Linked DNA regions of Homo sapiens: region 2 is linked to region 1. Evidence: fine-mapped expression QTL. A gene starts in region 1. The other region holds a variant in brackets. All regions are shown on one strand. Distances are between the middles of the regions.

Evidence for each region.
Region 2: its variant is fine-mapped to the expression of EVC in whole blood (TOPMed, PIP 0.91).

The regions. Positions count from the first base shown.
Region 1 is chr4:5,709,177-5,712,191 of GRCh38, forward strand. It overlaps EVC (EvC ciliary complex subunit 1), which reads left to right and starts at 2,025. Exons shown (of 21, transcript NM_153717.3): 1 at 2,025-2,378. The coding sequence starts at 2,205. It also overlaps a transcript of EVC2 not described here. RefSeq lists silencers at 1,984-2,033, 2,084-2,233 and an enhancer at 2,704-2,773.
Region 2 is chr4:5,731,819-5,734,318 of GRCh38, forward strand. It overlaps EVC (EvC ciliary complex subunit 1), which reads left to right. Exons shown (of 21, transcript NM_153717.3): 5 at 1,533-1,617. Among named protein-coding and RNA genes, the nearest start is that of EVC, 22 kb to the left of the region's middle. The variant G/A (reference allele first, on the strand shown) is at 1,412.

The DNA.
Region 1 (3,015 bases):
GGAGCTGGTGTCTGAAGTCGCAGCCCTAAGCAAGCTCTCCCTGAACTCTCCGAGGGGACAGGGATTTGCTTTGCCAAGGGACGCAGGAGGAGGAGGAGGAGAAAGACACAAAAAGGGGGACTGGTGGAGCCTTTTGTGTGCTTCCTCATCCCTGCCTAGGTCCTGGGTGACAGCTGACACCTGTTGACGGGGGAGGGCTCCACTCCCGCCAGCCTTCCTGCGGGGCAGGCTGTTAGGCTGTCTATAAAGTCTCAGGCCAGCGAGCCTGGCCCCTGGCAGCCTCTCTCCCCATAACCCAGACCATCCAAGGACAGGCCTTTCCTGACCTAACATGGACAAGGCCATGGGGTTCGAGAAGCTGAGAATTTATAAGCCAAGTTCCCCACACCAGGGGGTACGTGGCAGCTGTCAGGCATGTGACAAGACCACAGGCTAAATGCCAAGCATGTTGCTGGACCGTTGGAGTTGTTTGACAGTCAGTCATTTAAAGGTTAATTTAATAGTCAACAACTTTATGATAAAGTAAAAAGCAAATAACCCTACATTTAAAAAATCTCCTTAGTATTTTTTATGGAGTCAGGGTCTCACTATGTTGCCAAGACTGGTCTTAAACTCCTGGGCTCAGACAATCCTCCACTTGAGCCTCCCAAAGTGCTGGGATTACAGGCGTGAGCAACCACACCTGGCCCAAACACCACATTTTAAAAACTAAAGCCTAAGCATTCATGGAAATGTAAAACAAGAGCGTCAAGTTATTGCCCCCATACATGTCCCCAGGAACCTTGGAGATGCTTCTAAGGTAATATATAAGAAGCTCCACATAGCAGAGAGTTTGCCCTGAAGCCAGACACAGGTGTAAATGAGACAAGAATTCTGCCCCACTCCTTAATTGCAAATGAGTCACCTCTCCTCTCCAGCTGTCAGTTTCTTCATTTATTAAAAAAAGATGAAGAATTTGGATAACAGTTCCCATCTTGCCATGAGGAAATGATGAAACAAACTAGAAACAAGCTGGACATCTAGGCTGAAAGGACAAAGCCCTCCTCTGCTGAAGCAGATCCCCATGGTGTCCCCTAGCCCGGCCCACACAGGGAATTAAGCTCCACAGGGTAGGTGTGTGTGTGTGTGTGCCCCTGAGTGCAAGTGTGCAGTCGTGCATGTGCATGTGTGCTTTACCCAGGCACCCAGGACAAAAGCAAACATCTAGTAGCTACCCCATAAATGTTTGTTTAAAGCAAACACAGTGATGAACTCCTTTAATTTTTTATCACTCTAAACAACTGTGAGATACTCACTAGCCTGGACACTGCCTGGTTTGTGGCTGGCCTATCCCCCAGCCTGCAACACACACACAACAGATTCTCTCCAAGTGCTGAGTAAATGAAGGATGGTGCAGTGTCCTGGTCCTAGTGGGGAGCGGGTGTAAGGGTCTCTTTATCCATTGTCTCAGTGGGGAGTGGGTGTAAGGGTCTCTCTACCCTTGGTCCTAGTGGGGACTAGGTGTAAGGGTCTCTCTACCCATCGTCTCAGTGGGGTCTGGGTGTAAGGATCCCTTTACCCATCCTCCTAGTGGAGACTGAGTGTAACGGTGTCTCCACCCATTGTCTCGACCTTCCCTGGGACAAAATAAGATTAAAACAGGAGTCTTCGCGTGAGCAAGTTCAGAGGCGTGGAGGGCGGTGTGTTCCCGGGAAGGTTGATGGGTAGAGGTTAGGGGCAAGGGCAGGGGGTTGGAATTGCATTGATCCCAGCGTCTTCATCAGGAGGATGGGCGGAGCACCCACCGCAGAGGGTTATTGAGAAAGTTAATGAGATCATTAAGCTAAATGCGTAGCATATTCTAAGCCTCAAAAAACTTAAAGGAGCCTTCTAAGCCTCAGTAAAGTTAAAGGGGTGGAAACCGGGCCCCCCTCCGGAAGGGTCCGGGGCTGGGAGGCGCGTCTGTCTCTGGGCATGCTCAGTGCAGGGGCAGGGCTGGGGCGGGGGTGGCTGAAAGTTTTGAGCGGTGATCCAGGCTCCTCCCTCCGGCTCGGCGAAGCAGGGAAGGGGAGAGAAGCAGGAGTCGGGAGACTGCACAGGCCAGAAAGTCTGCGGAGCGGGCCGCGCCCCTGGCCCGCCCGGGCTCCAAGTCCCGCGTCGCCGCCCTGGCGGGGACGGTGCAGCAGGCGGCGGGATGCGGCGGGGCGGCAGCCTGAGCGCCCCGGATGGCCCGCGGCGGGGCGGCCTGCAAGAGCGACGCGCGGCTGCTGCTGGGGCGGGACGCGCTGCGGCCGGCGCCCGCCCTGCTGGCCCCCGCCGTGCTGCTGGGCGCCGCGCTCGGCCTCGGCCTCGGCCTTTGGCTTGGCTGCCGCGCGGGCCGCCAGCGCACGCGACACCAGGTGGGTCGGCCGAGCAGACAGCGGCGGGGCGGGGAGCGCGGGGCGCGTGGCTTCTGGGTCCTGCGGGCCCGGAGCCCCGGCTCTGCGACTCCTTGAGCCTGGTTGGGAACTTCGCACGCAACCGCTTAGGCGTCGGGTTCCCCTTCTGCTCCAGGAGGGAGGTGGCGGCGTGACTAAAGGGCATTGGCCTGGGGTCCCCTGCGGTGCCTGTTACATCCCACTCCGTTGGGTGATCCTTGACAGCAGCCCAACTGCGCCACGCCTCGGTCTCCTCATCTGCAGCACCAAGGGTTTGGACAGGACGCTGGCCCTGCTCGCCATGGTGGACAGAAGGACGGCTGGGGCTCCCACGCCTGAATGCCTATTCCTGCTTCTGCCTCTTCCATCCTTGCGGTGTGGGTTACGTCGCCTGGCCTGAGTCCCAGCTGCCACATTGGCATTCATTTTTTCATTCACCCCACAGTAAAAGTTTTCAGGCACCTTCTACAGCCAGTCACTGGCCTAGGGACGACATTCATGAGCGGGAGAGACCCTGCCTTGAGGCTGTGAACCTCAAGGAGAAGGACGAATTGCAAGTTTGCAAGTAAACTATCGGTTATGACACCGCATGGGGAGTCTGCGATGGGACGCTGGCAAT
Region 2 (2,500 bases), 22 kb after region 1:
GTCACTTCCTGTGCTGTATTGCCCAACACTGGGGTTATGGAGTCAGGCCTGAGCCCCGGGGAGAGATGACAGGGAGGCCTCATTTAATCACTGGCGTGCTCCCAGCTACTGGCGAAGTTGATTAAGTGGGTACTTCTGAGTACCGGGCAGAGTGCTAAGCACTTTACAGGGATTGATGATCTCATGAGGATTTTGCCCAGTGAGGGGGATCCTGGGACAAGTTCAGCAATCAGTAAATATTAATCAGTGAGTGAATGAATTCCGTTTAACACCCCTATGAAGTTGGTACTGTCATTTCCTCCAGTTCACAAAGAATAAAGGGAAACACAGAGAGGCTGCGTGACTTGCTGGTCACACAGCCGTGAGTGACGGAGCCGGATTTGACCCAACCCAGAGCAGGGCTCCGCACGTGGTGGGGGCTTAAGAAGCTCAGTCTGGCGGGTTCACACACCAGGCCTCAGGCCTCTCTCTGCTCCAAAATTCCGCTGAGTCCAAGAGGTGGGATGATCCAGGGCACAGCCTCTGCTCAGAGTTGCTGCAGAAACACTGGGCTCAGCACCTTGAGCCTGAAAGTGGCCCAGGCAGAAGGGACTTCGTTGAAGAGGGGCCTTCTTGGACTGGCCAGCCCTGGCTTAGAACGGCTTGCTTTCAGCATTTGGGACTTAGAGGATTTGAAACGGTTTGGGTGGGAGAGTCATCATTTAAAATGCATTTGCCTATGAGGGAAAAAAGGTCAAAGACTTTTACACTCTGCCATGTATCTGCCCCCGTTGACCCTATGATGGTCACTTGATTTGTCTGATTCTCTCTTCCCTGAGTCAGTTTCTGCATCTGTAAAATGGGCATGAGAATGTCTCTGCTAAGGCACCGAGGAAAGGTGACACGTGATGATAGACATGAAAATGCTTGAGGTTGGGCACCATGGCTCATGCCTGTAATCCCAACATTTGGGAGGCCAAGGTGGGTGGATTGCTTGAGCTCGGGAGTTTAAGACCAGCCCAGGCAACATAGTGAGACCCCATCTCTAAAATAAAATCCAAAATCAACCGGGTATGGTGGTGCATGCCTGTAGTCCGAGCTACACGGGAGGCTGAGGTGGGAGGATTGCTTGAGCCCGGGAGGTGGAGGCTGCAGTAAGCCGTGATTGTACCACTGCACTCCAGCCTGGGAGACAGAGCAAAACCCTATTTCTAAAAAGATAAGTAAATAAATTTTTTTTTAGAAAATACTCAAAGGAGGAAACGTCATTTTTATTTCTCTCCCTTCCCTCTCTCCATTGGTTTTCTCTTGGAAGTCCCAGGCACCTATGTCTCTGACACCAACTGTTCTCTTATGGCCATTAGTGGGTTTCAAACAGCTCATTTGATCCCTTCTTATAAACCTGGAGTGAGCGTAAGGACCTCAGCATGCT[G/A]CAGAATGAGAGTTTGAGGCAGGGTGTGCTGTGGCTTGTACTGATGAGGGACGTGCCAATATTCTTACTCTTCATTTCCGATACCCTGAAAGTCTTTTCCGCTTCTCATTTTATTTTGCAGTGTAGACGTTGACCTGTGTATCTACAGCCTTCACTTAAAAGACCTGCTGCATTTGGACACGGCACTGAGGCAGGAAAAGCATATGGTAGGTGGAGATGTTCGCATTCCCTCCTTTTCATGGGGACAGGAGCTGGGAGACAAGGACTCTGTGTGCAGTGAGTCCCAGAGACCCTTGAGAGGCAGACATCAGTGGAAACAGAGCCGCTGTGAGGTGGGGGAAAGCGGCGCTGTCAGGCATGCAGCCACAAAATGGAAAAGCACTTCACGCCTGTTGGTGGGGCATGGCCTTGACTTCAACCAGAGCTGTAGGGGCCTCAGCAGAAAGATGAGTGCCTCCTCCCGGGCTACACCTCCTGCTGGAGATAGAGATAAAAGATATTTAAAAGAGAACAATATGTTTAAAGGAATGATAATAATGATAAGAATATTTATGAGCATGAATTTTCTTGAGTCTTGCTATGTACGAGGTCCCAGGAGTATTACACTTAAACCTCAGCACAACCCAGAGGGGCGGGTGTCATTATCATGTCCACTCTGCAGGTGAGAAAACTGAGGCACAGGGCAGAGGATTTACCCAAAGTTATAAAGCTGCAGGAGTGGCACTGAGATGAGAAGTTCAGTACCTTTTCATGGGGCCACGTGTTCTCTTGACTGAATGAACAAGAACTCAGAACTGTGGATGTGGGGAAAACAACATTAGTCTCTGCCAGATGCACCTGGCCTCTGATTGAATCAGCCACGGACCTGAGCTATGGGAAGCCAGAGAGAGGAGTCCCACTTTAGCCGCAGAACCCCGGTGGGTTTATTCAGGCATCAAGATGACGGGGGTTAAAAAAAAGTGTTATTTCTCCATAAGGCACATTCTCTGAATTACTGAATGAGGAATGAGACCCTACAGAGAGAAGGCAGATGAGAGAAAGAGGAGAGCTAGAAACAGGTGGACAGACACACAGATATGTCTACAGGGC